Regions from separate parts of the Homo sapiens genome. Here regions 1, 3 and 4 are each linked to region 2. Evidence: fine-mapped expression QTL. A gene starts in region 2. Each other region holds a variant in brackets. All regions are shown on one strand. Distances are between the middles of the regions. Region 1 has its middle 51 kb from the start of RNF187. Region 2 holds the start of RNF187 (ring finger protein 187). Region 3 holds the start of LOC105373124 (a long non-coding RNA gene). Region 4 has its middle 5.5 kb from the start of H3-4.

Region 1 (8,099 bases), 52 kb after region 2:
TGCCTGCATTCAGACAAAAGATTTTTCCATTAGAATGCCTGAGGTTGCCCAGGTGTCTCTATCATTTAAATGCCTGGGGTCAGCCAATAGTCTCTCCCTTTAAAATGCCTGGGGTCATCCAGGAGCCTCTATTATTAGAATGTCAAGTGTTGCCCAGTTGTCTCTATTATTAGAATGCCTGTGGTCAGCCAGGGTTCTCTCTCATTAGAATATTTAGGGTCGCTAAGGTGTCTCTATCATTAGAATGCCTGGGGTCGGCCCAGAGTCTGTCTCCAATTTGAATGCCTGGGATCACCCGATGTCTCTATTATTAGAATGCCTGGAATTGGCCAGGAGTTTTTCTTATTAGAATGTCTAGGGTCTCCCAGGTGTCTCCATCATTATAATGCCTGGAGTCGGCTAGGAGTCTCTCAAATTAGAATGCATGGGGTTGCCCAGGTGTCTCTATCATTAGAATGCCTGGAATTGCCCAGGTGTCTTTTTCATTAGAATGCCTGGGGTCACCCAGTTGTCTCTATCATTAGAATGCCTGGGGTCAGCCAGGAGTCTCTCCCATTAGAATGCCTGGAGTTGCCCAGGTGTGTCTATCATTAGAATGCCTGGGGTCGCTTAGGTGTCTCTATCATTAGAATGCCTGCAGTCGGCAAGGAGTCTCTCCCAACAAAATGCCTGTGGTCGCTAAGATGTCCCTATCATTAGAATGCCTGGGGTCGGCAAGGAGTCTCTCCCATTAGAATGCCTGGGGTCACCCAGGCATCTCTATTATTAAAATTCCTGTACTCAACCAGGAGTCTCTCTCATTAGAATGCCTGAGTTCACCCAGGTGACTATCATTAGAATGCCTGGGGTCAGCCAGGAGTCTCTTCAGTTAGAATGCTTGAGGTCGGCCAGATGTCTCTGTCCTTAGAATGCCTGGCATTGGCCAGAAGCCTCCATCATTAGAATCCATGAGGCTGGCCAGGCATCTCTCCCATTAGAATGCCTGGGGATGGCCAGACATCTGTTTGGCCAAATAGGAGTCTCTCTGGTTAGAATGCCTGGGGTCACCCAGGTTTCTCTATCCTTAGAATGCCTGAGGTCACCAAGGTGTCTTATCATTAGGATGACTGAGGAGGGCCAGAAATCTCTCCCGTTAGAATGCCTGTTGTCGGCTAGGTGTCTATCGTTAGAATGCCTGAGTTTGCCCAGGTGTGTCTATAATTAGAATGCCTGTGGTTGGCCAGGAGTCTCTATCATTAGAATGCTTGGGGTCGGCCAGGAGTCTCTCCTGTTAGAATGCCTGGTGTTGGCCAGGTGTCTCTATTTTTAGAACGCCTGAGGTCGCCGAGGTGTCTCCATCCTTAGAATGACTGAGGTGGCCAAGGTGTCTCCATTATTAGAATGCCTGGGCTCAGCTATGAGTCTCTATCATTAGAATGCCTGGGGTCAAGCCAGGAGTCTCTCCCTTTAGAATGCTTGAATTCGGCCAGGTGTCTCTATCCTTCCAATGCCTGAGGTCGCCAAGGTGTCTCTCTGATTAGAATGCCTGGGGTCAGCCAGGTGTCTCTCCTGTTAGAATTCCTAGGGTCAGCCAGGTGTCTTTATAGAATGCCTGAGGTTGCCCAGGTGTCTCTATCATTAGAATGCCTGAGGATTCCCAGGAGTCTCTATAATTAGAATGTCTCAGGTTGGCCAAAATTCTCTCTGGTTACAATGCCTGTGGTCGGCCAGGTTTCTCTATCCTTAGAATGCCTGAGGTCACCCATGTGTCTCTATCATTAGAAGGACTGGTGTTGGCCAGGAGTCCCATTACAATGCCAGAAGTCAGCCAGGTGGCTCTATCCTTAGAATGCCTGAGGTCACACAGTTGTCTTTACCATTAGAATGCTTGGAGTTGGCCAAAAGCCTCTATCATTAGAATGCCTGGGGTCGGCCAGGAGTTTCTCCCATTAGAATGCCTGGGGGTGGGCTAGATGTCTCTGTCCTTAGAATGCAGGAGGTCGCCAAGTGTCTTTATCATTAGAATGCCTGAGGTCAGCCAGGAGTCTTTCCTGTAAGAACACCTGGGGTTGGTCACGTGTCTCTATCTTTAAAATTCCTGGGGTAGCCCAGATATCTCTATCATTAGAATGCCTGGGGTTGGCCAGGAGTCTCTCCCATAGAAAGCTGGTGGTTGCCCAGGTGTCTATCATTACAATGCCTGGAATCAGCCACGAGTATCTCCCATTAGCATGGCTGGGGTTGTCCAGGTGTCTCTACCATTAGAATGCCTGGGGTCAGCCAAGAGTCTCTCCCATTAGAATGCCTAGGGTTGAAGAGGGGTCTCTATCATTACAATGCCTGGGGTCTGCCAGGAATCTCTCCATTAGAATGCCTGGGGTCGAGAAGTTGTTACTATCATTAGAATGTCTGGGGTTGGCCAGGTGTCTCTCTGGTTAGAATGCTTGAGGTCGCCCAGCTGTCTCTATCATTACAATGCCTGGGGTTGGCCATGAGTCTCTCCAATTAGAGTGCCTGGGGTGGCCCAAGTGTTCCTATTATTATAGTGCCTGGGGTCGCTCAGGTGTTTTTATCATTAGAGTGCCTGTGGTCAGCCAGGAGTCTCTTCCATTAGAATGCCTGGGGTCGCCCAGTTGTCTCTATCATAAGAATACCAAGGGTCAGCCACGAGTCTCTCTCATTAGAATGCCTGGGGTCGCCCAGGTGTCTCTATCATTACAATGCCTGAGGTCAGCCAGGAGTCTCTCCCATTAGAATTTCTGTAGTCACCCAGGTGTCTCTGTCATTACAATGCCTGGAATCATCCACGAGTCTCTCCCATTATAATGATTGAAATCATTCCAGTGTCTCTATCATTAGAATGCCTGGGGTAACCTAAAAGTCTCTATTATTAGAATGCCTGGGTTTGGCCTGGAGTCTCTCCCATTAGAATGCTTGGGGTCTCCCACATGTCTCTTTCTGTTGGGAAAAAGCTGAGTGTTGGGAAAAAAGCTGAGGCAGGGCTTGCATGTCTGACATGATGTCCAGGGCTCAGAGCATAAAACCTCTCGTGGCCTCTGGAATGAGTCTAGACTTGCTGGCTCCTTGCTTCTAGCTTAAACTAGAAGAACATGCTCCCCATTATCTCAAGTAGCAGAATATGTCCCATATGCTTCAAAGGAAATGCTAAACCATCACAGCTGTAGATCATGTGCTTGCCCTTTTGACCCCCACATTCTCATCACCCGTTTCTTTGCTTGATCACCAATAAATAGTCTGGGCTTCCAGAGCTCGGGGCCTTCACAGCCTCCATACTAGCATTGGCCCCCTAGACCCACTTTCTTTCTCAAACAGTCTTTTCTCATTCCTTTGACTCTGCCGGACTTCATCACCCCCATGACCTGGTGTTGAGTCTGATCACCCCGACATCTGTCATTACAGTATCTGGGGTCGGCAAGGAGTCTCTCCTATTAGAATGTCTGTAATCCATCAGGTGTCTCTATCATTAGAATGCCTGGGGTCGCCCAGTTGTCCCTTTAATTAGAATGCCTGGGGTTGGCCTGAGGTCTCTCCCAATAGAATGCCCGGGGTTGCCCAGGTCTCTCTATCATTAGAATGCCTGGGTCAGCAGGAGTCTCTCCCATTAGAATACCTGGGGTCACCCAGGTGTCTCTATCATTAGAATACATGGGGTCAGCCAAAAATCTATTCCATTAGAATGCCTGGGCTCACTCAGGTGTCTCTATTGCTAGAATGCCTAAAGTTGGCCAGGAGTCTCCCCCATTAGAATGCCTGGGGTTGCCCAGTTGTCTCTATCATTACAATGCCTAGGATTGGCCAGGGGCATCTCCCATTAGAATGTCTGTGGTGGACCAGGTATCTCTATCATTAGAATGCCTGGGGTACGCAGTGGTCTCTATCATTAGAATGCCTGTGGTCACCCAGGTTTCTCTATCAATACAATGTCTGGGGTCTGCCTGCAGTCTCTCAAATTAGAATGCCTGGGGTCAGCCAGGAGTCTCTCCATTAGAAGGCCTGAGGTTGCCCAGCTGTCTTAATCATTAGAACGCCTATGGTCGCCCAGGTGTCTTTATTATTAGAGTGCCTGGTGTCACCCAGTTGTCTCTATCATTAGAATACCTGGGGTCACCAAGCTTTCTTTATTTTTAGAATGCCTGAGGTCGGCCAGAAATCTCTTCCATTAGAATGCCTGGGGTCA[C/T]CCAGGTTTCTCTATCATTAGAATGACTGGGGTTGGCCAGGAATCTCTCCCATTAGAAAGCCTGGGATCGCTCAGTTGTCTGTATCATTAGAATGCATGAGGTCAACCAGAAGTTTCTTTCATTAGAATGCCTGGCGTTGCCCAGGTGTCTCTGTAATTAGATTGCCTGGGGTCAGGTAGGTGTCTCTCCCATTAGTATGCCACGAGCTGCTTAAGTGTATCTATCATTAGAATGCCTGGGGTCACCCATTTGTCTCTATCATTAGAATTCCTGGGGTTGGCCGAAAGTCTCTCCCATTAGAATGCATGGGGTCACCCAGGTGTCTCTATTATTAGAATGCCTGTGGTTTGTCTGGAGTTTTTCACATTATAATGCCTGAGGTTGCCCAGGTGTCTCATTAGAATTACTAAGGTTGCCCAGTATTCTCTCCCTTTAGAATGCCTAGAGTCTCGTTGGTGTCTCTATCATTAGAATGCCTGGGGTTGGCCAAGGGTCCCTCTCATTAAAATGCCTAAAGTAGCCCACTTGTCTCTACCATTATAATGCCTATGGTCAGCCAGAAGTCTCTCCCATTCGAATGCCTGAAGTCGTCCAGCTGTATCTATTATTAGAATGCCTAGGGTCGGCCAGGAGTCTCTTCCATTAGAATGCCTGCAGTCATCCAGGGGTCTCTATTATTACAATGCCTAAGGTCGCCCAGGAGTCTCTCCCATTAGATTGTCTGAGGTCACCCAGGTGTCTTTCTCATGAGAATGCCTAGGGTCAGCCGGGGGTCTCTCCCCTTAGAATGCTTGGGGTCGCCCAAATGTCTCTATAATTAGAATGCCTGGGGTTGGTTGGAGTCTCTCCCATTAGAATGCATGCTGTCACCCTGGTGTTTCTATCAGTAGAATGCCTGGGGTCTCCCAGTTGTCTCTATCATTACAATGCCTGGGGTGGGCCAGAAGTCTCTCCATTAGAATGCCTGAGATGACCAGCTGTCTCTGTCATTAGAATGCCTGGGTTTGTCCAGGAATCTCAACCATTAGAATGCCTGGGGTTGCCTGGGGTTGCCCAGGTATTAGAAAGACTAGTGTTGGCCAGGAGTCCATCTTGTTAGAATACCTGGGGTACCAAGTCGTCTCTATCATTAGAATGCATGGTATTGGTCAGGAGTCTCTCCCATTAGAATGCCTGATGTTGCACACGTGTCTCTATCATCAGAATGCCTGAAAGAGCCCAGGTTTCTATATCATTAGAATGCTAGTGGCCGGCCTAGGGTCTCTCCTATTAGAATGCCTGAGATCGGGCAGGAGTCTCTTTTATTAGAGTGCCTGGGGTCTCCCTAGTGTCTCCATCATGAGAATGCCTGGGGTCAGCCAGGAGTCCTCCCCTTACAATTCCTGGGGTCACCCATGTGTCTCTATCATTAGAATGGCTGGGGTCGGTTGGGATTCTCTCATTAAAATGCAAGGGGTCGCCCAGGTGTCCCTATTATTACAATGCCTGGGGTCAGCCAGGAGTCTCTTCCATTAGAATTCCTGGGTTCCTCCAGGTGTCTCTATTATTAGAATGTCTGGAGTTAGCCAAGAGTCTCTTCCATTACTATGCCTTGGGTCACCCACTTGTCTCTATTATTACAATTCCTTGGATCAGCCAGGAAACATTCCCATTAGAATGCCTGGGGTGGCCCAAGTGTTTCTATCATTAGAATGCCTGGATTCCACCAGGAGTCTCTCCAGTTAGAATGTGTGGGTTCGTCTAGGTGTCTCCATCATTAGAATGCCTTGTGTGGCACAGCTGTCTTTATCATTAAAATGCCTGAGGTAGTCCAGGAGTCTATCCCATTAGAATGCCATTGGCTGCCCAGGTGTCTCTATCATTAGAATACCGGAATGGGGAAGGATTCTCTCCCATTAAAATAGCTGGGTTTGCCCAGGTGTCTCTATCATTAGAATGGCTGGGGTTGCTCAGGTGTCTTTATCGTTAGAATGTCTGGGTTTGGGCAGGAGTCTCTTTCATTAGAAGGCCTGGGGTCGTCCTGGTGTCTCTATTATTAGAATTCCTGGGGTTAACCAGGAGTCTCTCCCATTAGAATGCCTGAAGTCACCAAGGTGTGTCTATCATTAGAATATCTGGGGCTGGCTGAGATTCTCTCCCAGTAGAATGCCTGGGGTTGCCCAGTTATCTCTACCATTAGAATGTCTGGGGCCGGCCAGGAGTCTTTTATATTGGAATGCCTGAGGTCGCCGACGTGTCTTTATCATTAGAAAAACTAGGGTCATCTGGAAGTTTCTGTCATTAGTATGCCTGGAATGTCCCTGGTTTCTTTATCATTACGATGCCAGGTGTCAGCCTAGAGTGTCTTTCATTAGAATGCTTGGGATCGCCCAGTTGTCTCTATCATTAGAATGCCTGTGGTCGGCCAGGAGTCTCTCCCATTAAAATGCCTGGGGTCGCCAAGGTGTCTCTATCATTAGAATGCCTGGGGTTGGCCAGGAGTCTCTCCCATTAGAATGTCTAAAATCACCCAGGTATCTCTATCATTATAATGCCTGAGGTCTCCCAGGAGTCTTTTCCATTGAAATGCCTGGTGTTGCCCAGATGTCTTTATCATTACAATGCCTGGGGTCAGCCAAGATTCTCTCCCATTAGAATGCCTGGGGTCGCCCATGAGTCTCTCTCATGAGAATGCCTGAGGTTGGCCAGGAGTCTTTCCCATTACAATGCCTGGGGTTGCCCAGATTTCTCTATCATTACAATGCTTGGGGTCAGCTAGGAATCTCTCCCATTAAAATGCTTGAGGTCACCAGATGTCTCTAACATAAAAATGCCTGGGGTTAACAAGGAGTCTCTTTCATTAGATTTCCTTGGGTTGTTCAGGAGTCTCTATCATTAGATATTCTGGAGTCACCTAAGGGTCTTTATCTTTCAAATGCCTGGGGTCAACCAGGGGTATCTCCCATTAGAATGCCTGAGGCCTCCCAGGTGTCTCTGTAATTAGAATGCCCGGGGTCGCTTAGGTGTCTCTATCATAATAATGCCTGGAGTCCCACAGGTTTCTTAATAATTAGAAAGCCTGGGGTCAGCCAGGAGTCTCTCCCATTAGAATATCTGTGGTCACCCAGGTGTCTATTATTTGAATGCCTGCGGTCAGCAAGGAGTCACTGCCATGATAATGCCTGGGGTCGCCAAGCTGTCTCTACCGTTAGAATGCCTGGAATCAGCCAGAAGTCTATCCAATTAGAAAGCATGTGATCTCCCAGGTGTGTCTAACTTTAGAATGCCTGGGGTCAAAAAGGTGTCTCTATCATTAGAATGTTTGAGGTCAGCCAGGAGTCTCTCCCTTTAGAATGCATGGGTTCTCCCAGATGCCTGTATTATTAAAATACCTAGGGTCAGCCAGGAGTCTCTCCCATTAGAATGTCTGAAGTCTTCAAGGTGTCTCTATCATTAGATTGCCTTAGATAGGCCCGGAGTCTCTCCCATTAGAATGCCTGGGGTAACCCGGGTGTCTCTATTATTAGAATGCATGGGGTCAAATAAGAGTCTAATAAAAATGCCTGGGGTCACTCAGGTGTCTCTAATATTAGAATGCCTGGGGTTGGCCATGAGTCTTTCCAGTAAAATATCTTGGGTCACCTAGGTATCTCTGTCATAATGCTTGAGTTTGACCAGGAGTCTCTCCCATTAGAACGCCTGGGGTTGTCCAAGTGTCTCTATCATTTGAATGCCTGAAGTCACCCAGGTGTCTCTATCATTAGAATGTCTTGGGTTGGCCAGAAGTCTGTTCCATAAGAATGCCTGGCGTCACCCATTTGTCTCTATAATTAGAATGCCTGGGGTTGGTCAGGAGTCTCTCACATTAGAATGCCTAAAGTCGCCCGGGTGTCTCTATAATTAGAATGCCTGTGGTTGGCCATGTGTCTCTCCCATTAGAAT
Region 2 (8,099 bases):
TTCCCCACCCAACTGAGTGCTCAAACGGCATCAGGCTCAGTCTCTAATCTGGAGGGTAGAGAGGAGGGAGGCTGGACAGAGAAGTGCCAGGAGGCTCAGAAAACAAGACCCAAAATGAGGACATCCTAAGCAGCCTCAGAAGCAAAAAGTTTTCTCTGACCTTCTCTGGCCCTCTGTCTCTAGCCCCTCATTCTCCCCTGTCTGGCCATAGAAACTAGAATCCCTCTTCCTCAAGGTGAGTCATAGAAACTAGAACCCAAAGCCAGCTATAACACTTAAAAAATATGACTCTAATTTTCTTTCTGCCTTTCTGTGTAAAACCCAGCCATGAAGAAATGATCTGACCTACCTTGTTAGACTGTAGATCTTAAGACCCTCACTCCAGAGAGGGTCCTGGATGGAAGGAAGGAAGGAAGGAAGACTGCTCAGAGAGGCCATAAGAATCTAGACAGACAGGCCTGGCTGGGTGTCCCCACTTAGGCTCTTCTCATTAGCTCCGACCCTATTTGCCCAATTCTATTTCTGCATGGCTGTCCATACCTTGTGGAACCTAAGCATAAAAATGGATGATTTCCCTCATATCTTGGCCAGGCATGGTGGCTCACGCCTCTAATCCCAGAACTTTGGGAGGCCGAAGTGGGCGGATCACAAGGTCAGGAGATCGAGACCATCCTGGCTAACACGGTGAACCCCCGTCTCTACTAAAAATACAAAAACTTAGTCGGGCGGTATGGCACGTGCCTGTAGTCCAGCTACTCGGGAGGCTGAGGCAGGAGAATCGCTTGAACCCGGGAGGCGGAGGTTGCAGCGAGCCGAGATCGCGCCACTGCACTCCAGCCTGGGTGACAGAGCAAGACTCCGTCTCAAAAAAAAAAAAAAAAAGGACGATTTCCCCCATATCTTTAGGTTTGTATAGACACAGTAAATAAATGTGTCTGCCTTTTCTCCAATTGATCTGCCTTTTGCAATTTTTCTTTCTTTTTTTTTTTTTTTTGAGACAGAGTCTGGCTCTGTCACCCAGGCTGGAGTGCAGTGATGCTATGTCAGCTCACTGTAGCCTCCGTCTCCTGGGTTCAAGCGATTCTCCTGCCTCAGCCTCCCGAGTAGCTGGGACTACAGGCATGCAGCACCATGCCCAGCTAATTTTTGTATTTTCAGTAGAGATGGGGTTTCACCGTGTTGGCCAGGATGGTCTCCATCTCCTGGCCTTGTGATCTGCCAGCCTCGGCCTCCCAAAGTGCTGGGATTACAGGCGTGAGCCACCGCGACCAGCCTTTTGCAATTTTTCATCAAAATTTGAGAGGACCAAGGGTTCCCCTTGGCACCTACACCAGCCACCCTGTCTTGGGAAGTGGGGATGCTGGCACCACACAATGTGGATTCTGCTGGTGGTAAGGGAGAGAGGCTTTCAGGCAACAATCTTTGCCAGTGTATACTTCCAAAAGTCTCTAATGCACACATGTGCAAGTTCATGGCTGCTACCATTTGCTAAGCCATGCCCCTAGTATTGGACCTTCAAGGTTTTTTTTTTTTTCTCCAAAATGAATAGTGATATGACATACATTTCTCTTTCTTTCTTCTCTTTCTTCCTCTCCCTTCCTCCCTCCCTCCCTTCCTTTCTCTCTTTCTTTCCTTCCTTCTTTTTCTCCTTCCTTCCTTCCTTTTCTTTCTTTCCTTCCTTTCTTCTTTTTCTTTTCCCTTTCTTCCTTCCTTCCTCTCTCCCTCCACTCCTTCCTTCTCTCCCCCACCCCCCGCCCCCACCTCTCTCTCTCTCTCTCTCTCTCTTTCTTTTTTTTAAGACAAGGTCTTAAAAAATTCTCTCATTTCCCAGGCTGGAGTGCAGTGGCATGATCACGGCTCACTACAGGCTCAATCTCCTGTGCTCGGGTGATCCTCCCACCTCAGCCTCCCAAGTAGTTGGGTCCACAGGTGCGTGCCACCACGCCCAGCTAAATTTTAAAAATTTTCTGTACAGACAGGTTCTTGCCATGTTCCCCAGGCTGGTGTTGAACTACTGGGCTCAAGCTATCCACTCACCTCAGCCTCCCAAAGTGCTGGGATTAACAGGCATGAGCCACCTCTCCCAGCCACATTTCTAAACAAAACAAAACAGCCCAATTTTTTACAACCCAATTTTTATTATTTTCATTTCCTGTTATTTTTATAGTTTGTTTTCTAAGAAAAGGAATTCCAATCAGAAAATCCTTAATCGATACTGCTACGTGGATTACAAGAAGCAGTATTCACAGAATCAAGTGTTTTTTTTGTTTGTTTGTTTTCTGTTTTTTGTTTTTTTGAAATGGAGTTTCACTCTGTTGCCCAGGCTGGAGTGCAGTGGTGTGATCTCGGCTCACTGCAACCTCCACCGCCCAGGTTCAAGCGATTCTCCTGCCTCAGCCACCCAAATAGCTGGGATTACAGGCACGTGCCACCATGCCTGGCTAATTTTTGTATTTTTTTTTTTTTTTTGAAACTGAGGGAGTCTTGCTCTGTCGCCAGGTTGGAGTGTAGTGGCATGATCTCGGCTCACTGCAACCTTCGTCTCCCGGTTCCAGCTATTCTCCTGCCTCAGCCTCTCAAGTAGCTGGGACCACAGGCGTGCACCACCATGCCCAACTAATTTTTGTATTTTTAGTAGAGACGGGGTTTCACCATGTTGGCCAGGATGGTCTCGATCTCTTGATCTTGTGATCCACCTGCCTCAGCCTCCCAAAGTGCTGGGATTACAGGCGTGTGCCACCACATCCAGCCTAATTTTTGTATTTTTAGTAGAGATAGGGTTTCACTATGTTGGCCAGGCTGGTCTTGAACTCCTGACCTCAGATGATTCACCCGCCTCGGCCTCCCAAAGTGCTGTGTTTACAGGCCTGAGCCACGGCTCCCGGCCAAGTTTCCTTTTTTTTGTTTGGTCTGCTTACTTAATAGTGGAAAGAAAGAGAGTCTCGTTTTATTTTCCTCTTTCTTAACTGGGCAGAGTGTACATTTTTTTCTCATGTGTGTTCAATCATTTGTGTGCTTTTTTTTTTGTGATTTGAAAAATCCCATGACAAGGTGTATTTTCCATCATGCTTTTCCTTACCTAATTTTATAAACTCTTTGTATATTTGTGGTTACAATGTTCCTAATTTGGCTATTTGCCTTTAATTATAATTTTTGATATTTTCTCATTCACAAGATTAGTTCATTATGAAGTTTGCTCATTTTTTATATTTTTTACTTTTCTCTCCAGCAAGTTCCTAGTTGACTCAACAATATCAGCAAGGCTCGGCTGGAAGCCTCTAATCTTTACTACACAGAAATAACCTCGGTTTACTATTCATGTTTCCCACGGGCATCTAGTGCATTTCCAAGTCGATTTAAAAAATCTTCACAAAGACAAAAATACCTCATTAGATCCTGCGCTTGCTTGGAATACAGATTTATAAAAATTTTTTTTTGTTTTTGTTTTTTAAGACAGAGTCTCGCTCTGTCGCCAGGCTAGAGTGCAGTGGCACGATCTTGGCTCACCGCAACCTCCGACTCCCTGGTTCAAGTGATTCTCCTGCCTCAGCCTCCTGAGTAGCTGGGATTACAGGCATGCGCCACCACGCCCGGCTAATTTGTGTATTTTTAGTAGAGACGGGGTTTCACCATGAGCCAGGATGGTCTCATATCTTGACCTTGTGATCCGCTCGCCTCGGCCTCGCAAAGTGCTGGGATTAGAGACGTGAGCCACGGCGCCCGGCCCAGATTAATTTTTTAAAATGCAAAACTTGCACAATCTTATTTTAACCATGCTTGCTTGTTTTCAAAATAATTAAAAAACAAAAACACAAGATTGCTCTTCCCAAAGGCTTATTTCTTTCCTTTAAATTTATTTTTTAAAGAAAAGCTAACGGCCGGGTGTAGTGGCTCACGCCTGTAATCCCAGCACTTTGGGAGGCAGAGGCGGGTGGATTACGAGGTCAGGAGTTCGAGGCCAGCCTGGCCAACATGGTGAAACCCCGTCTGTACTAAAAATACAAAAATTAGCCGGGCGTCGTGGCAGGCGCCTGCAATACCGGCTACTCGGGGGGCTGAGGCAGGAGAATCGCTTGAACCCGGGACGCGGAGGTTGCAGTGAGCCGAGATCGCGCCACTGCACTCAAGCCTGCCTGGCAACAGAGCGAGGCTGTCTCAAAAAAGAAAGAAAAGCAAAGCAAAGCTAACAAATGCTCTTCTGTCATGCATCATCACAGAATCAATGAGAGCTCCCCCCAGCCAGGAGACAGCGGACAACCAGGGTAGCTTCCCAGGGGGCCAGAGGGAGGCTGCGCGAGAAGAGGCTCAGCGGGATGGGTCCACGCAGGGAGATCCCACGCAGGGTGGGCGTATACGAGTGTCCACGTCCGGAGGGCCGTTCAAGGGCGGGTCCCTGAAGGAAGGGTGCACGCAGGGCACGTCCACGCGGGCAGGCCCGTGCACGCAGGGCGTGCCCATGCAGGGCGGGTCCGTGCAGGATGAGAGCAGCGGAGGAGGCCCACGCAGGCCATTTCCCGCCCCGTCCCCAGCCCACGCGGGCGAGCTACCGCGGGGGTACGCGCAGCTCAGATCCTAGCAGCTTACAAAAACAACCTTTTAAAAATGGAACCTTCAAGTAAAAATAAAACTTTGTTTCCCTCTTTCGCAGGAGTTACTGAAGTAGGAAGGGACAGCCCAGTAAGATTTCAGGATACGACTTGGGCCGGTCCGCAGGCAGTAGAGTGAAGCGCGCAGCTGCCAGGACTTGCGCGGTGACGTGCGCCGCTGCCAGGACCTTGCAGGTGGAGAGCATAGTTGCCAAAATCAAGGCGGAGGAGCGCACCGCCGCTAGGATCCAGGCGGAGAAGCCCACCGCGGCCAGGACCTAAGGATGCAGTACACTGCTGCCAGGATCTTGTCTGTGGAGCGCAGCGCGGCCAGGACCTCCGGCTGCAGCACACCGCTGCCAGGATCTTATCGGCAGAGCGCTCCGCGGTCCGGACCCCGCCCCGTGCGCGTCCCCGACCCCGCCCCGTGCGCGTCCCCGGCGTTGGCGTCTTCGTCCTGTTGCTGGTCTCCGTCCGGTCGCCGGCCGTCTAGGTCTCCGGCCCTCCCCAGCCGCTCCTGCGCCCTTGCCGGCCCCGCCGCCCGCAGCCCTGGCGCTCCCTGCGGGCCCCGCCGAGGCCGCCTGCGCCCTGTGCCAGCGCGCGCCCCGGGAACCGGTGCGCGCCGACTGCGGCCACCGCTTCTGTCGGGCGTGCGTGGTGCGCTTCTGGGCCGAGGAGGACGGGCCCTTCCCGTGCCCCGAGTGCGCCGACGACTGCTGGCAGCGCGCCGTGGAGCCCGGCAGGCCCCCGCTCAGCCGCCGCCTTCTGGCGCTCGAGGAGGCGGCCGCGGCGCCCGCGCGCGACGGCCCGGCCAGCGAGGCCGCGCTGCAGCTGCTGTGCCGCGCCGACGCCGGCCCGCTCTGCGCCGCCTGCCGTATGGCTGCGGGCCCCGAGCCGCCCGAGTGGGAACCGCGCTGGAGGAAGGCGCTGCGCGGCAAGGTGCGCGCCGCGGGGTCCCGTGCCCCACCCCGGACGGTGCCCTGCGCCTCTCCGCCCCCGCCCCGGTCCCCCTGAGCCCTGGGCCCTTCCCGTCTCCACTGTTCCTGTCCCCGGATTGTCCCCGTCCCCGGATTGTCCCCCTCCCCTCACCGCCACGGGTCCCCTCTCCAGCGTGTGCTGGGCCCCTCCCTCCTGCGGCTTGCCTCCCCATATTTCCTGCGTCTCTTCGGAGTCTGGTCCCCTTCCCCGTCTTGGTGTCCCCTGCTGGGCGGTGCCTTATCTCCCCACCCCCTACCTTCTACGAAGTCCTTCCCCCACCAGCGCCCATCTTTGTGGTCCCATCACTAGCTGTGCCCTGTCTCGCCCTCATAGACCCCCTCTAGTTCCTACAGATTGACTCCTCCACTCACTCTTCCCTTGGGGGAGACATCACGCCTCTTGCCCCTCTGTATTCCACTGTGTCCACAGGCCTGGCCCACCTTCTCGTCTGCTCCCCGGGCCACCCAGCCCTCGCCTGCACCCCCTGTCCCCTCTCCCATCTTTCAGAAACCCGCTCTGAGAGTCTGGCAGCAGCGGGTCCGGGAGTCTGGAGCCTTGCCCATGGCGGGTTGGTTGTGGGACACAGAATAGGAGACAACAGCCAGCCTGGGGTCCTGCTCTTCAATACAGGGGAGGGGAAGCCAGCCAGACTGTGTCCCTGGGTGCTCCTCCTGCATTGGGGGTCCTGCCACCGGGCAGAGCGACCCCCATCCGGCTCAGGCAGGGCAGGGTGTAGGGCAGGCTGTGCAGACCTTTGGTACAGGCCGAACTCACACTGAACAGGGCCACTTACAGACACAGAACTCCTAAACCCACCTAGACAGTCCCCTTAGCCCCAGCACCCAGATCCTTCTGAATAGGTGTGAAGCCCAAGAAACCTTTTGACTGCCTGTGCGTTCCTGCCCTAGACAACCGGGCTTCGAGGTTATCTCTGGGATGGTCAGACTGTGTGCAGTCAGCTGGGGTGATGTCCCTCAGTACTGGGCTGGGTTGGGGGACCCAGAGCTTCTGCCCACCCCTGGTGACCTTCTTTTCTTTACAGGAGAACAAGGGGTCTGTGGAAATCATGAGAAAGGACTTGAATGACGCCCGGGACCTGCATGGCCAGGCAGAGTCAGCAGCTGCAGTGTGGAAGGCAAGTGGGGGGACCTGGGGCAGCCTGGAATGAGGGGACTGTGGGCTCAGGGCTCTAGACAAAGGGACCACCAGGCCAAGTGGGCCAGGCCTCTGAACTGCTCAGCTGGTTGGTTGGAGGAGGGGCCTCTGGACTTAAGTGAGCTTCAGGGTATTTTTTTTAGGATGTGTTTGTATTTCTCAAATAGAATCTAGCCAAAGCCAGTGGAAGCCTCTTTTTCTCCTCACATTTTACCTGTAGGTGATGGCAGCATCAGACTTCTTTTTTTTTTCCCAAGAGACAGAGTCTCACTTCATTACCCAGGCTGAAGTGCAATGGCATGATTGTAGCTCACTGCAGCTCGAACTGGCCTCAGGCGATCCTCCCACCTCAGCCTCTGGGACTATAGGCACGTGCTACCACACCTGGTTAATTTTAAAATGCTTTTCTAGAGGTGGGGGTCTTGCTGTGTTGCCCAGGCTGGTCTCAAACTCCTGACCTTAAGCGGTTCTCCCGCCTTGGCCTCCCAAAGTGCTATTTTTTTTTTCTTTTTTAGAACACATCTGTAATTTTCTGTGGTCCTCTTGTTCTGATCTGAGAGTTGCTCATTATTTTTTAGAGGCTAGAAGTCCAAGATGAAGGAACTGGCAGATTCCCTGTCTGGTGAGGGCGTTTCCTGGTTCATAGATGGTGTCTTCTCACTGTGTCCTCACATGGTGGAAGAAGTGAGGGTGTCTCTGGGGCCTTTGTGTAAGGACACTGATTCCGTTCTTGAGAGTTCCACCCTCACAACCTCATCACCTCCCAAGGGTCCTGCCTCCTAACGCCATCACCTGAGGGATGAGGATTTCAGCATGGGGATTTGGGGAGGACACAGACATTCAGACCAGAGCAGCGTTACTTTCCTTGGGTGCCTTCCACAGTATTATATCCCAAGGGGACATCCCATAGATTCTTTTAGGTTACTCACCAGTAAAGCTCTTTAGTCGTTTAAACTCTATTTGGTGACTTTTTCCTCGTGTAGTAAAAACCTGTGTGCCATTTTCTCTGCGTTTCATAAATTCCTATCTCCTTCTTTTAACCTGAAAGACAGAGTGCTTTTCACAGGTGCAGCAGCTCTTGGGTAACTGGCTGCATCTCGAGGCTGAGGCCCACGTTTTTACCCCAGCTTGAGGCTGAGGTGGGCTCTGTGCTCCTGGTGCTGCCAAGCCCTTGCCTGCTATCCACAGGCCTGAGGTGCAGGCCTCCCTCAGACAGTGACGGGTTACACATGGGGTCCCTGATGCCACTCAGACCCCTGGCACTCCACACTGCCCTTGGGGCTGCTCTGAACTTCTCCTTGCCTTGTGAGTGGTCAACACTGCCCAGTGCAAGTGAGGCTGGAAGGCTTTGGGGACCTCCAAGTTTTCAGTAACCCTGTG
Region 3 (8,099 bases), 24 kb after region 2:
AAAGCTGGACAGAGAATGACTTTGACGAGGTGAGAGAAGAAGTCTCCAGACGATCAAACTACTCTGAGCTACAGGAGGAAATTCAAAACAATGGCAAAGAAGTTAAAAACTGTGAAAAAAAATTAGATGAATGTATAACTAGAATAACCAATGCAGGGAAGTCCTTAAAAGAGCTGATGGAGCTGAAAGCCAAGGCTCGAGAACTAAGTGAAGAATGCAGAAGCCTCAGGAGCCGATGCCATCAACTGGAAGAAAGGGTATCAGTGATGGAAGATGAAATGAATGAAATGAAGCAAGAAGGGAAGTTTAGAGAAAAAAGAATAAAAAGAAACGAACAAAGCCTCCAAGAAATATGGGACTATGTGAAAAGACCAAATCTACGTCTGATTGGTGTACCTGAAAGTGATGGGGAGAATGGAACCAAGTTGGAAAACACTCTACAGGATATTATCCAGGAGAACTTCCCCAACCTAGCAAGGCAGGCCAACATTCAGATTCAGGAAATACAGAGAACGCCACAAAGATACTCCTCGAGAACAGCAACTCCAAGACACATAATTGTCAGATTCACCAAAGTTGAAATGAAGGAAAAAATGTTAAGGGCAGCCAGAGAGAAAAGTCGGGTTACCCACAAAGGGAAGCCCATCAGACTAACAGCTGATCTCTCGGCAGAAACTCTACAAGCCAGAAGAGAGTGGGGGCCACTATTCAACATTCTTAAAGAAAAGAATTTTCCACCCAGAATTTCATATCCAGCCAAACTAAGCTTCATAAGTGAAGGAGAAATAAAATCCTTTACAGACAAGCAAATGCTGAGAGATTTCGTCTTTCTTTCTTTCTTTCTTTCTTTCTTTCTTTCTTTCTTTCTTTCTTTCTTTCTTCTTTCTTTCTTTCCTTCTTTCTTCTTTCATCTGTCTGACAGGATCTGGCTCTGTCACCCAGGCTGGAGTGCAGTAGCACAATCATGGCTCACTGTAGCCTTAAACTCCTGGGCTCGAGTGATTTTCCCACCTCAGCCTCCTGAGTAGCTGGGACAACAGGCACACACCACCATGCCTGGCTAATTTCTTTATTTTTATTTTTTTGTAGAGATGGGGTCTTGCTATATTGCCCAGGGTGTCCTCAAACTCCTGGCCTCAAGCAATTTTCCCGCCTCAGCCTCCCAAAATGCTGGATGACAGCTGCAAGCCACCACAAGCAACTCTGTCATAATGCAGTCTTTATAACCAGCTGAGCACAATCTCTACTCTCAAAATAGGGCTCTGAAGTCTAGGAACAAGTCCTCAGCTCCTGAAATGACAGAGGAGGAAGTGAGTGAAGTGAATGAATGAAGGACACAGTCAATATTGAGAATAATCACAGTGATTGCAACTGTAAACCCTCCCTGACGCGGCCTTGCTCTGAATGCTACTCTGTTGGTCTTTCAGGATGGTATCAGCACTCCCAGCAGACAGAGTGGCTCAGGGCTCACACCAGGTCCCTCAGCCCACACCCATCAGACTTGGGGTTCAAACTCAGATCTGTCTGTTTTCAAGACAGAGCCCAACCAGCCTGCCTGAAATCAGCCAGTGAAGACTTAATTGAGGGATTGCTAGGAGACAGATGGTCTCACTGGGTAGATCATAATCAGGCAATGCCAGAGGGAGGATCCCCACTGGCCACCCCATTCCTACTGTGTCTGAGGACACATGGACGAAGCCTCAGCTCAGGGCTTCGTGTTAGGGTCCTGGATTTGGGGTGGGGGGGCAGGATGTGCCTTGTCGGGGCTCCCTGCTCACCACGCCATGGCTCAGCCTTGTCGCTGCTGGTGGGCCGCCTCTGCTCCTTTTCTCTTCACTCCCTCTCTTCTTCCAGTGATGCTTTGTTCTTTTCCCTTTGACGTTTCCAGAAGATGCAGATGCCTCCAGCTATTACGAGTCCCATGGCAACAAGGATCAGAGGCAGAGCTGCTTTCCATGCCGTGAACTGGGAGCTTCTGGAGAAGGTAGCTGGAGAAGATTCCCAGAAGCCAGGAATATTGGGGTAAGAGAGTTTCTGTGTTCTGAGGTCAAACTTGCTAAAGAGTTCAGTAGTCCAGGGACATAATATTTGCAAATTACTGTGAAATAGTTTCCAAAATAGTATGTATTTGCACAGCTGGTCTATGGACCGAATGTCTGTGTCCCCCAAAGGGGTTGAAATCCCAACCCCTACGGTGATGATGTTAGGAGGTGAGGCCTTTGGGAAGTGATGAGGTCATGAGGGTGGAGCCCCTGTAACGGATATGATGGGAATGGTGCCCTTATAAAGGGGAGAGCCCAGAGAGCTCCCTCACCCCTTCCACCATGTGAGGACACAGTGAGAAGGCGCTGTCTATGAACCAGGAAGTGCCCTTGCCAGACACCAAATCTGCCACGCCTTGATCTTGGACTTCCCAGCTTACAAAACTGTGGGCAATAGCTATCTCTTGTTTCTAAGCCACCTGGTCTGTGGTATTTTGTTATAGGCACACAAATGGAGTAAGACAGTTGGGTTTAGACATATGCATAGGAAGTAGATATTAGATATCTATTTGTAGATAGACAAAGGGAGAAGTGATAAAAAGAAATATCGCAATAAGGTAAAAATATGGTGAATCTGAGTAAAGGGTGCACAGACAACTTTTCTATTAATCTTGCAAAGTTTCTGTAAGTTTGACATCATTTAGAAAAGTAAAAGTGAAAGTTTTTGTGAAAAGCTAAATTTGGAAACAACCAAGATATTTTTTAGTAGGTGAATGGATCAATAAACAGTGGTCCATCCAGATCCTGGAACGTTATTCATTTCACAAAAGAAACAAGTTATCAAGGCAGGAAAAGACATGGAGGAAACCTAAATGCGTACCACAAAGTGAGGGAAGTCAAAGTGAAGGGGCTACAGAGGCACCGTCCCAACTACAGGACATTCCAGAACACCTGGAAACTATGGAGACAGTGAAAACATCAGTGGTGGCCAGGAGTTAGGGGAGATGAATGAATGAGCGGAGCACGGAGGATTAAGGGCAGTGACATTATTTTGTATGATACTATGACAGATATGTGGCATTATATATTTATCTAGAACCATGGGACACCATGCCAAGAGTGAGCCCTCATGAAAACTGCACTCTGGGTGCTGACGGCATTGTCAACGGAAGTTCATCAAACATGGTGGACGTTCCTTCTGGTGTAGGGTTTTTATGCTGGGGGAAGGTGTGTGAGGGGGTTAGGGGAAGATGGGAACTCTCTGGACTTTCTACTAAAATTTGTTGTGACCCTAAAACTGCTTTAAAAAATAAAGCCTATTTTAAAAAACCCTAAAAACTGTTGATATTAGGATGTACATTTCTTGTTCCCCCAAAGGCAAGGCTCTCCCCAGGGTCCCTGCACCCTTATCTCTGTTCCTCTTCAGTAATCAGCACCCAAACAGTGCACCTCCTGGGATGCCCCAGCCATGTGAGGACAGGGACCTGCCACCCATCCCTGCTTGCCACAAACCCCACAGCTGTCTCTTAATGTCCCCAGTGTCCAGGGCCACGGAATCCTGTGCTCAGTGATTGTGAGGACAGAACTGAATAGAGGACTCACCGGGCAGGTGGCTCTCAGCCACCTTCCTCCTTTCAGGGAGGAGGGGGCTGGAGATGGAGCAGGAGAGACCCTCCACAGCCCTGTCCCAGAGCGTCAAGCTGGATGCCACAGCCCAGAGCCTGGTGGTGGCTGAGGCTGATAGATTGGTCACAGCAGGCCTAGCCTGGCCCCTGAAGTCTCTCCGTTCCACCCAGGACTTGGGGAAACAGCCTGCTGATGTGCACTCCGCCCTGACTCCATCCTGCTGGTCTGTCACCTGGATTCTGGGCTCTCTGCCCAGCCCTGAAGGAAGAGACAGCAGCTTGAATCTTTGCAGCCATGGCTGCTTCTATTTAAAGGAAAAACAAAATCTTGAGGATTTCCAATGTATTTTGGCAATTTCACAAACTGCCTACCCTGTGTTACACACCATCCCTAACAGAGTTCCCCATTTCCCAGACAAAAGAAGGGAAGCAAAGTGGAAAAGGTCCAGGAAGATTGAATAGGCATCCTGTGTTGCAGAAGTAGAATTCATGGCACAAGATGGGACCCAGGCTTGTCTGTTTCGAAGCACAA[G/A]TTCTGAGTCACTCGGGAAACCTCCCGTATCTGAAGACTCTCTTCTCTCTCTTGGCCTTTCTGTCTCCTGTCATTATTTCTCTGTCTCTCTCTTCCTCCCACTCTCTGTTGCTTACTGTCTTTCTCATTTTCTTTTACTGTCTCTCTGTCTCTGTCTCTATCTCCCTCTCTCTGTCACTGACTCTGTCTCTTTGTCTCTTTCATTCTCTCTGTGTTTCTCTCAGTTTCTCATTCTCTCTGTCTCTCTCCATCTCTGTCTCTCCTGTCTTTCATTCTCTGTCTCTGCCTGTCCCTCCCTCTCCATCTCTCTCTTTCCCCATCTCTATAATTCTGTCATTCTTTCTTCATCTCTCTCTGTCTTTCTCTCATCTCTCTGTCTTTCTCTCCATCTCTCTTTCCACCTCTGTCTGTCTCTCCCTGCTTCTTTCTCATTCTATCTCTTCTTCTCTGTGTCTCTCTCATTCCCCCCATCTCTCTCTTTCCCTTCCCTTCACTTTCCAGTCCACTGGTGTAAGGAGGGAAAGGAAGATGAGGAAGGTGGCTCTGCCTTCACCGCTGTGCTTCCCGGGAGCAGTGCAGGCCAGCACGGCAGCTGGGAGAGTGCACTCTCACCCTACTGAAAAGCCCTCCACCTGAACACGCTGGGCCCCAAGGCCATGCCTGGAAGTAGACTGACAGCCAGCTAGCCACCAGCCTTACCTGCCACCTGCACCTGCACAGTGGCCTCGCCGAACTTTACACCATCCTTGAAGCGGCAGCAGTATGTCCTGTTGTCAAAGGTGGTGACCCTGTGACTCCTCACCATGGCCTTGCCCCTGGCCACGTGGTCACTCATGAAGGTGGTCCTTCCTCTGTACTGCCACTTTTGCTCTCCATCCATGTCCATCCCTCTCTCATGCATGTGCACAGCTAGGGAGGGCTGGCACCTGTACCACCTCAGCTCCATGTCCTCGGCACTGATATTGGGGAACAGCTGGCACTGTAACTCCACGTGTCCCCCAGCCATAGCCAGAATAGGGGCATGAGGCCCAGTGACATCAAAGTCAGCTTTCCCTGGGGGAGGCAGATCAGAAAGGGCTGGGTTAGGCCATGTGTTGGGAGGCCAGGGCACTTCCCCCCTGCCCCTCCCTCTTCTTGGAAGCTTTGGGGACCTATTGAGCCCTGAGCTGCTGGGAGATGCTTCAGCTTCCCGCCATGCTGGACACACCCCCACCTATGCCAGGGCACCTGCCTCGACTTGCACAGGAGTCTGTCCCTCAGTTTTGACAGATGCTGGCCAGTGGGAGCTGCAGGAAGACCAAGGTGACAAAGCAGATGGACAGGAAGGCCTCTGGATCGCATGTCACTGCCATTCCTGCCAGGCCGGAGCCACGCACTGTCACTGGGAGAGGAGCCACCGCCAGGAAGCTAACAGGTGCAGAGGAAAAGTGCCATGGAAGAAAAAGAAGAAAAAGGTCATTTACTCTCACTCTCAAACAAGTTATTAATGCTATAAATGGAGACACAGCAAGCCTCATGTGCTCCTGTACCCATCTCCTTGCGGGTAACACACCTCTCACCCTAGTCTGTCTGCGGAATTCCACGAGGACATCCAGGAGGGAAGGGGTTTGATTTTCTAATTGCTCATAAAGAGCTGTAGCCCAGTCTCTAGCTGGTGACTGTCATGAAACTCCAGAATGCTGGGGGAGAAAACCCAGACTCGGATTAAGCAAATTCGAGGTCAGAACGACATCAAGGGATTCCCTTAATGTCCCTTGCTTTCCTGCTGTCCCCATGGGGACTTCTACAGTCAGGGGCTGGGGGCTGGGCCCAATCCTCAGAGCTCTTCAGCTGGGATGGGCAGGCCAAGACCCTCATGAGTCTCTTGTGAGCATTTCTTGTAACCTTGGTTTAGAGAGCAGGTGTTGGTAAAAAGTTCTGTGACCTTGGGCGGTTCTACCCAGCACAGCCATCCAGGTTGGGCATTTACGTGTGTGATTAGGGAGTTGTGTGGGCACAGGCTCTTGTCCTGTTTGGTTCTTGCATTGCAGGAAGGCCCTGTGGTCCTTCTGCCCTTGGGGATGGGGAGAGGGTGGAGGAAGCAGAGACACTGAAGAGCAAACCACATCCTGACCATAGACAATGCTCACCTGGCACCGAGAGCTGCTGCAGCTTCCCTGGGAAGTCCTGGCAACTTTGGGGGAATGAATTTAGTTTCCTGCCAACTCCAGGTAGGGTGTGACCCAGACCAACCACGCTGTCTCCAAGCAGTGATGTGAAAGGCAACCTAGACATCTGGCAAAAGCCGCCAAGTCCCCCAGTTTCCAGAGATTCTTCCTTTTGTTTTTTGCAAAAATATGTAACTGTACCTTTCTGGCAGTTGCAGCAGAAAAAAAAAAAAAGGCTTCCTGAAGAGTGTGATCCCCAGTGTGGAACACCCCAGGGCTGGGGAGCAGGAGATAGAGCCCGCCGGGAGGAGACGGGTCTCAGGGTGGGACCCAGGCCAGCTGAAGGAGCTGCAAATGCAGATAAAGCCTGTGGTTATCTGGCAGCGTGCAGGCCCAGCCTAGCTGGCCCAGGTCCTTCAGGAAAGGTGTTTATGATCATGTCGCAATGTCCTAATTCCTGTATTGTCCCAGAGGGACGTTCAGGGCTCCTCTTCCCCAGCCCTTCGCTGCCCTCCGTGGCTGTGGGGTCATGGGTGTCTGTTCTCACTGGTAGCATCCCTGGCCCAGCTTAGAACCTTCATGCTGATTTCTCGCACCCAGCCGCAAGGCCTATTCCCTCCTCACCTTCTTGTTTGATGATTCAAAAGTCTGGGCCTTTTCCTGGGTGGTTTTTGTGAGAAAGGAGTCCTTGCTTTCCTAGAGGGAGGAGCTTTATCCAAACTCTGCAGACGGGCTGAGCACTCCCTGTGCCTGCGGGCGGTGAGGAAATCCAAGTGCCAGGTCCCTCCTATGTCCCTCCTTGGGGGAGCGTCTCTTTGGTCAACCGGTTGTTCCCCCTTTTATATGTCAACACGTAAGAATTATGTCGTCCTGTGATCTGCTTTTACCAGACAATGACGTGACCTAAAACTCGACTCACTTGTCCTTTTTAAAAAAATAATTGACCAGACGCGGTGGCTCACACCTGTAATCCCAGTACTTTGGTAGGCTGAGGCAGGCAGATTGCCTGAGGTCAGGAGTTCAAGACCAGTCTGGCCAACGTGGTGGAAACCCATCTGTACTAAAAATACAAAAAAATTAGCCCAGCATGGTGGCCTGTGCCTGTAATCCCAGCTACTTGGGAGGCTGAGGCAGGGGAATTGCTTGAACCAGGGAGGTGGAGGTTGCAGTGAGCCAAGATCGTGCTACTGCACTCCAGCCTGGGTGACAGAGTGAGACTCTGCCTCAAAAAAACATTAATTAATATGTTGTTAAAGACAGGGTCTCACTCTGTCACCCAGGCTGGAGTACAGTGGTGTGATCTCAGCTCACTGCATCCTTGATCTCCCAGACTCAAGCAATCCTCCCATCTCAGCCTCCCAAGTAGCTGGGACCACAGGTGCACCATCATGCCTGGCTAAATTTTTGGTATTTTTTGTAGAGATAAAGTCGTGCTATGTTGCCCAGGCTTGTCTTGAACTCCTGGGCTTAAGCAATCCTCCCACTTCGGCTTATCAAAGTACCGTGGTTACTGGCATGAGCCACTGTGCTGCATCCAGTCACACTTGTCCTGATGACTTGGGAAGAAGGACTCAGGTTTGAACAATCTAGAGTGAGCCGCTACGATGTACAGAGCACACTGTGTTGAGAGCAGATTGTGATGCCTGTTGTCGGATGAAGAGTGTCACAAGCACTGGGAGAAGCTATGGCAGAGAAAGGTGTCCTGGCGGTGTGGGCTTTCAGCCCATGGGTAGGTCACCTGACACGGTGGTCCTTCTGTGCATGAGCCCATGTGTGGCCCAGAGTCTCTCATGTGGGCAGTCGGGGCTCCTGC
Region 4 (8,099 bases), 56 kb before region 2:
TGGTGTTGAAAAGAGCCTGGCACCCCTCTCCCCTCTCTCTCTGGCGTCCTCTCTCGCGGCAGCCCTGTGACCTCTGCACATACATGGGTTCCCCTTCACCTTCCACCATGAGCAGAAGCAGCCAGAGGCCCTCACCAGAAGCAGAGGTGGGCCCTATGCTTGCTTCCTTCCTTTCTCCCTCCCTCCCTTCCTTTCTCCTTCCCTCCCTTCCTCACTCCCTCCCTTCCTTTCTCCTTCCCTCCCTTCCTTTCTCCTTCCCTCCCTTCCTTTCTCCTTCCCTCCCTTCCTTTCTCCTTCCCTCCCTTCCTCACTCCCTCCCTCCCTTCCTTTTTTTCTTCTCCCTTCCCCTCCCCTCCTTTCCCTCCTTTTTTCATCTTGCTCTGTTGCCCAGGCCCCTCTTACCTCAGCCTCCCAAGTAGCTGGGACCACATCCAGCTAATTTTTAAATTTTTAATTTTTTTGTAGAGATGGGCTGTCATTATGTTGCCCAAGCTGGTCTTGAATTCCTGAGTTCAACTGATCCCCCGACCTTGGCCTCCCAAAGTGCTAGGATTACACCGTGCCCGGCCACTATGCTTTTTTTTTTTTAATTTTTTGACCTGAGTCTCACTCTGTTGCCCAGGCTGGAGTGCAGTGATGTGATCTCAGCCCACTGCAACATCCGCCTCCCGGGAAGTTCAAGCGACTCTCCTGCCTCAGCCTCCTGAGTAGCTGGGATTACAGGCGTGAGCCACTGCGCCCAGCCACTGTGCTTCTTGTACAGCCTGCGAAACCATAAGCCAAATAAACCTTTTTTTTTTTTAATAAATCATCCAGCCTCAGGTATTCCTTTAACAACATGAAACAGACCAAGATAGAAGCCAAGAGAAATCTATACAAACAAACTTTATTAAACTAACCCTTATCTTCCTAGTTGTTGCCACAGTTACTACTCTTTGTTCAACCTAGTGTGTAAGTATTTTGACTTAGTCATTTCTTCACCCCATTAACTATCCTCACTCAAGCCCCGTGGCCGTATCAAATCTCACAACTTAATAGTGTTTGTCCACCTCTGTATATAAGTGACTCTAACTGCCTCTTTGCATCTTCATTTCCTTATGAGGGCTCCTGTACCACATTAAATTTGTATTAAATAACTGTATGTTTTTCTCCTGCTCATCTCTCTAATGTCAGTCTAATTCTTGGGCCCACCCTGGACCCTAAGATAATGGAGGTAGAATTCTGCCTCCCCTACAGCGCCCCTTGTTGATGCATGACAGGCCCACTGTCTTTGTCTGTTTTGCGTTGCTGTAAAGGAATACTAGAAGCTGGGTAATTTATCAAAACTTTTTTTGGCTTATGGTTCTGCAGGCTGTATAAGAAGCAAGGCTTCAGCATCTGCTTCTGATGAGGACCTCAGGAAGCCTCCATTCATGGTGGAAGATGAAGGGGAGCCCCTGTGTGCAGAGGTCACAGGGAAAGAGAGAGGAGGAGGTGCCGGGCTGTTTTTAACAACCAGCTTTGGCAGGAACTAATAGAGCAAGAACTCCACTCCCTACAAGGGAGGGCAGGAGTCTATTCATGAAGGATCTGCCCCCAGGACCCAAGCACCTCCCACCAGGCTGCACCTCCAACACTGGAGATTAAATTTCAACATGAGAATTAATGAGACAAACACCTTATTCAAACTATAGCACCCACTACATTGCCATCTTTGCCTTATCAATGATTACCTGAACTCCTTGTCCCCATGCGTCAATCCACACAAGATGCTTGTTTGCCCAGCCTTGGTTCAGCTTCTCCCCTCCCCCAACGCCCTGATGTTTGGCCTCTCCTGGAGCAGGCCAGGCTCAGGGTAAAGTATCCTCAATCTCTTGTCCCCTCAGCCACCCTTCATCCCACTTCCCCAGACGTGGTTCTTTCCAGCCTCATTCATTCCTCCCTATATAAGAAAACTCCTTCTCTGCGTCACCTTTGGGAGCTTGCAGACATTAAGGTCAATGCTTTCTCCCTATTGCAGTATTCTGGTATCTCCTATTGCAATATCCTTTTGCATAAAGATATCTCCTTACTAAATCTGGATTGGTTTTTTTATTGGACAGTGGTTGTTACACAGAAGGCCTGCTGCCCTCTGCTCATCGGGTCTGGTTGGCTGGGCAGACAGATGGAAGGACCCTAGGACCATCCACCTGTGAAGTCCACCCAGGCTCGCCCCTGGTGTAAATGATGTGGGGTCTGACCTGGCCAGACCAGATGCTGCTCAACCCTTTAACTGCCTGGGAGGATTTGGACACGTTCCATCTTCCTGGAGCTGTCCCTCACTCGAGAGAGGCAGCCTTGGGACTCTCCAGGTGTCCTTAGGGCTAACGGGGCTGATGATGGGCGGATGATGGATTCCAGGCACCTGCTGCGACCTCCCCAGGAGCACCTGCAAAGCAGCCCTTTCTGCCTCGTGACTCTACCCAGGCCTCCCTGTGGAGTGTGGCACAGGCTTGGCCAGTTCTCCGAGTGCAGCCAAGAGGCTCATAGGTTTTGGGCACATGTCTGCGACCTCACTTTTCCAGTCATAAGGGCTTTTGCTTTTAGATTCTCAGGGGCTTTGAGCTCCCAAACCACCCAGACATAGCACAGGATGCCACCTGGTTCTATGTGTCTGAGCAAACAAATGCACTCACATGAAGCACAGAATAAAGGGCTGCCTAAATGCGGACCCACCCACCCCTGGCAAGGCTTGAAAATAGCCTCTATATTACATGTAAAAGCGCTTTTTAGATGATTAGCTGAACAGTTCATTTTCTTGATCTCCAATCATTGAGTTCTATGTCGTTAAAACCCCTAGAAGGACCAAGACGTAGAGAAAAATGTCCCCTGAAAACTTCCCAAGAGAGATTTCCTCTGCAAACTGAAGAGAATGTGAGATACAAACATTCCCCACAAGGAACTGGTCTGTCGAGGCCACACGCATTCTGTAAATCAGTGCTTTTTCTCTGTCTCCTCGTTTTCTCTCCTTATGGTCTTTGCATGTACAGCTGAGGCAGTAACGGGACTTGTATCCTCGTGTTAAAGTTCTTTGAGATTTGGGGGTCGTACGTGGTTGGTCATATTGCATCATCTCTGTAGGAGCATTCCCATCAGCAAACAATATGCTATCGCTTCTCCAATTTATAAATTGGCTTTTCTCCTTAGTCTGGGCAGCAGCAAGCCTGAAACCATCTGGACTTTCACAAACTCACTGTAAGGGCAGAGATGGGGGTCTTACAGGAACAGGCACTCCTTCTAGGTCTGGGGTAAACAGTGCACAAAGCGATGGTGAGCTCTGTCCTCCTAAGACTCTTCCAAAGCCAGTGTGCACTAGGGTTTCCCACTGTTTGTTAGAAAGAACGCCTTCCCTCTCCATCCAATGTGCCCTTCCATCTGGCATCCCACTTCTCTGGCCCACTCTGCAGGAAACTCCTCACAAGTCCTGTCCATACTGACCATCCCCAAGTTCCATCTTCCCATTCTGTGGGCCTGGTGCATGGTGAGTGCTCCATGTGTGTCCAGGAGGGTGCCAGTGGGAGACGACTTTCAGTACGGTCTGTGGGATGAACCAGTCAGTCCACAGTCACATCATCAATTGGGACGGAGCCAAGTGCCAGTCATCTACCTTGGAGCTTCCAGAAGCTGCAGGAAACACTGACATATCTCTAAAGCAGGGGAGTATGTTGGCTGTAGCCAGTTTTTTTTACAATCGGATCTTTGCTGTGTTCATAGCCACTTTCTAAGGGCCCCAGCGTGGGTGTGTCTCCACTGTCCTGATTCCCCACCGCCTCAATAGTAAAAAAGAATCCTGCCATGTGTTCAGTGTTTTTCTGAAGGATCCTTTATAATGTCTTCTTCTTTCTTTCTTTACTTTTTAAATTTGTCTGCAAAACAAGGTATTAATCTATCCATGATAGAACACACTAAAGCAAATTTTTCTCCTTAAACAGGTAAGATGAACTTCCATCCAGATTGGGTGCTCTAGAATATTTTCTTATTAAGGAGATTTCTTTTCTTGTTCAGTTTGAATAGATGGCAAGAATTCCTCACACCATGAGCTTTTTTTGTTGTCCCATGAACCCCTGTCGCAGTTTGATGAAGCCTATGGATTCTGTCTTAGAAAGACTTTTTTTTTTTGAGATGGAGTCTCACTCTGTCACCCAGGCTGGAGTGCAGTGGTGTGATCTCTGCTCATTGCAACCTCTGCCTCCTGGGTTCAAGCAATTCTCCTGCCTTGGCCTCCTTAGTAGTTGGGACTACAGGGACCAGCCACCACACCTGGCTAATTTTTTTTTTTTATTTTTAGTAGAGACAGGGTTTCACCATGTTGGTCAGGCTGGTCTTGAACTCCTCACCTCAAGTGATCCACCCACCTCAGCTTCCCAAAGTGCTGGGATTACAGGCATGAGCCACCATGCCAGGCCAAAAAGTTTTTAAATGCACAAAAATGTTAAAAAATTATTAATACAAAGGAAAT[C/G]AATTATATTGAAATAAGTTGTGAAAACATATAAAATTAACTTGTCATAGAGTTATAAATGTGCATCTTTATGAATGCATTAAATAACATTTGAATTAGGAAGTATTTGTAGCTACTGTCATTTCAAAGTCGTGATGGGTGTTAAGGGTCTTCAAAGATATTTGCCATGACTGCACTGTAATAAAACTCCATCCTCTCTCCGCACATCAATTATACTTCTTTCTCAATGTTTTCATGATTGCCCTGGAGTTTGTAATATACATTTACAACCTAAGTCTACTTTTAATAACACTATCCTGCTTCATGATCAGGAGTGGTAGCTCATGCCTGTAATAAATCTCAGCACTTTGGGAGGCCAAGGCCAGCAATGGCTTGAGCCCAGGAGTTTGAGATCAGGGCAACATAGTGGGACCCCGTCTCTACAAAAAATACGAAAAAATAGCCGGGCATGGTGTCATGCAACTGTAGTCCCAGCTACTTGGGAAGCTGAGGTGGGAGGATTCCTTGAGCCTGGGAAGTTGAAGCTGCAGTGAGCTGAGACTGTGCCACTGCACTCCAGCCTGGGCAACAGAGCGAGACCCTGCCTCAAAAAAAAAAAAAAAAAGAGAAGGAGCCAAACGCTGATGCCCCCTAGGCCCAGTGACAGTGCCAGCACAAGGCCTATACAGGCACTTGGCAAATGCGCTGTGTTCTTATTGTTGCAAATGGCCTGTTAGCTTCCCAGGTCACAACGACCCCAAATAACTCCCACACCTGCACCATGCACCCAGTAGGCACTCAATAAACATTGACGTCAGGAATGGTCCGTGTGGGTCTGGTTCTGGTTCTCGTTTGTCTCTTCAGATTGTGTGTTCTTGCCTTTTGGCACGTCTTGTCATTTTGTGTTGAAGCTGGAGATAAAGTATCAGGTAATCAGAACTCTGGTATGGCTGGGGGTGGTGGCTCATGCCTGTAATCCCAACACTTTGGGAGACTAAGGTAGGAGGACTGCTTGAGGCCAGGAGTTCAAGATCAGCCTGGGCAGCATATCAAGACCCCGTCTCTAAAAGAAAAAAAAAATTAAAAAAAAAAAAAACTTAGCTGGGCATGTTCGTGTGTGCCTGTAATCCCAGCACGTTGGGAGGCCAAGGTGAGAGAATCGCTTGAGCCCAGGAGTTTGAGTCTGCAGTGATCTATGACTGTGCCACTGCACTCCAGCCTGGGCCACAGAGTGAGACCCTGTTTAAAAAAAAAAAATCGGGAACATAGGCCGTTAGCGTGAGCATTTACATCATCTGGCTCGAAACTGGGCTCTTTTTCATGTTTATTATAGCCGAAGTTTTGTTTACCTAGGGTCCTTGTTCTCATCTCCCCTCCTGACTTTAAACTTCCCTAAGAGCTCCTTCACACACTGTCCGGTGTATCATAGTGAGGACTAAGCACTGACCTTTTATCTTACCCAAATAAGCTCTCACCTTTTATCTTACCCAAATTCCCACCTACGGGGTCTAGGGAGTCAACCCCTACAAACCATAAATTCTCATCAGATGGGTTTTATTTGACCCTATATATTGTGACTGACTTTTCAATCTGACTCTGGCATAAAATTTTGAGACAAGGAAAAAATATTCAACCCCAAAATATATATTCCTTGCCATGCCTTGAAATTGCCCTGAAAAATCTCTTGTGGGAAAAATCCACATTCTATAGAGAATCCCCTTTCCCCTTTGTTTTCCTTCCTTTCTTTCCAGATCCAGGAGATAATCAACTAAGAGCCAGGCACCCTTTTAAGTCCCATAAGAAACAATTTACAACCTGCTGTCTCTGAAGTTGGCTATCTGAGCACTTCCTCTGCACAATAAAACTTGGTCTCCACAATCCTTTATTTTTAACCTGAACATTTCCTTTCTATCGATCCCAGGTCTTTAGACAAGCTCAACCAATTATCTGCCAGAAAATGTTTACATTTACTTATAGCCCGGAAGCACTTGCTTTGAGTTGTCCTGCCTTTCTGAACCAAACCAATATATTTCTTAATATTTGATTAATGTCTCATGCCTTCCTAAAATATATAAAACCAAGCTGTACCTCAACCACCTTGGGCACATGTTCTCAGGACCTCCTGAGGGCTGTGTCATGGGCCATGGTCACTCATATTTGGCTCAGAATAAATCTCTTAAAATATTTTATGGAGTTTGACTCGCTTGATCAACAGTAGCTCTTTCTGTCAGACTGTACTCACACTGGAGCCTTATGGCGTGGTGGCCGGCCTGGGGTGGAGGAAGCATTCCATAGTGTTATGATGAAATCTCAGCCTCTTATTTGGCCTGTGCCCCTGGACTGTGACCTTCACAGGTGTTTCCTAGCTGCTTTTGTCTCCTTAAGGCTAGAGGTGGCTGAAGTGGAGGGAATACCTTTCTCGAAAGGAAAATAAATCTGAAAGGAAAATAAATCTTGGTGCCCCAGAATCACTAAGCTAAAGAGAAAAGTCAAGCTGGGAACTGCTTAGGGCAAACCTACCTCTCATTCTATTCAAAGTCACCCCTCTGCTCCCTGAGATAAATGCATATCTGATGGCCTCATTTGGAGAGGCTAATCAGAAACTCAAAAGAATGCAACCATTTGTCTCTTATCTACCTATGACCTAGAAGCGCCCTCCCTGCTTCAAATTGTCCTGCCTTTGCCTCGAGTTGTCCCACCTTTCCGGACTGAACCAATGTACATATTACACATAATGATTGATGTCTCATATTTCCCTAAAATGTATAAAACCAAGCTGTGCTGAGACCACCTTGGGCACATGTCGTCAGGACCTCCTGAGGCTGTGTCACAGATGCACATCCTCAACCTTGGCAAAATAAACTCTCTAAACTAATTGAGACCTGTCTCAGACATTTGGGGGTCACACCTCCCCCAGCTGGATTAAGCCTGTTAGTGTCTCTCCCCTGAAGGGTAGGCCTTTCTTGGGGGCATGTCCTGAGTGTACTTCACCATGGTTGCTTTCCCGCCTCCTGCCACAGCCTGGAGGGGTCTTTTCTATTGCACCAAGAGAACCTAGTGGGGTTCCTACAGGTAAAAACCAAGAAAAGAGTGGGCCACCCACACCCATACTGTTGGAATTCAATTTTCCACAAATTGAAAAAAATTAAAATTCCCAAAATGGAAACACCTTCAGTCCCCAGGAAATTCTTACTCTCAGGCTGTTCCACACTGATGGCTGGAGATTTCCTGCCAGTCAAAGGCTCCGGAAGCTTCTGCTCCAGGTAATCCTGGGCTTCCTTCTCACTGGGGAAGGATGTATTTCATCATCACACAGGACGCTGGGGTTTGGTGTGCGTTGTTTTATCATAATAAGAAATGATCAATTTATTTTATCCAAACTTTGCTATTTACTTAAAAAGATAACTATCCAATATTAGCAAAAATAATTTTAGAACTAAGAATTTTTGCTTTTCAAAATTTATGAACATAATGAGTCACATTTACAGATTTCCCAATGGTTACAAGCCCTCCCATTCCCGAGAGTAGCCCCGCTTCATTCTGGCGGTGGAGAGGGCTTGGCAGGCTGGTATGTGCATTCTGATTGGCTGACATCCTGCAGTGGTTTGGTCCAATTAGAGAGCTGAACTGGCAGCATCTTATT

What was found. PIP is the estimated chance that this variant, and not a neighbour inherited with it, causes the effect. A credible set is the group of variants that fine-mapping cannot tell apart.
Region 1: its variant is the best candidate, but not a certain one, in a credible set for the expression of RNF187 in transverse colon (GTEx, PIP 0.80).
Region 3: its variant is the best candidate, but not a certain one, in a credible set for the expression of RNF187 in gastroesophageal junction (GTEx, PIP 0.51).
Region 4: its variant is the best candidate, but not a certain one, in a credible set for the expression of RNF187 in pancreas (GTEx, PIP 0.73).

What each region holds. Positions count from the first base shown.
Region 1 is chr1:228,533,891-228,541,989 of GRCh38, forward strand. No RefSeq gene overlaps it. Among named protein-coding and RNA genes, the nearest start is that of RNF187, 51 kb to the left of the region's middle. The variant C/T (reference allele first, on the strand shown) is at 4,178.
Region 2 is chr1:228,482,354-228,490,452 of GRCh38, forward strand. RNF187 (ring finger protein 187) reads left to right here and starts at 5,029. Exons shown (of 4, transcript NM_001010858.3): 1 at 5,029-5,525; 2 at 6,607-6,699. The coding sequence starts at 5,136. RefSeq lists enhancers at 3,907-4,768, 4,088-4,467, 4,769-5,629, 5,747-6,475, 6,476-7,203 and silencers at 5,088-5,207, 5,468-5,667.
Region 3 is chr1:228,506,813-228,514,911 of GRCh38, forward strand. It overlaps LOC105373124 (a long non-coding RNA gene), which reads left to right and starts at 1,235. Exons shown (of 3, transcript XR_949233.3): 1 at 1,235-1,310; 2 at 1,889-2,022; 3 at 3,079-3,320. It also overlaps the pseudogene BTNL10P. RefSeq lists an enhancer at 4,326-4,827. The variant G/A (reference allele first, on the strand shown) is at 4,140.
Region 4 is chr1:228,426,813-228,434,911 of GRCh38, forward strand. No RefSeq gene overlaps it. Among named protein-coding and RNA genes, the nearest start is that of H3-4, 5.5 kb to the left of the region's middle. The variant C/G (reference allele first, on the strand shown) is at 4,478.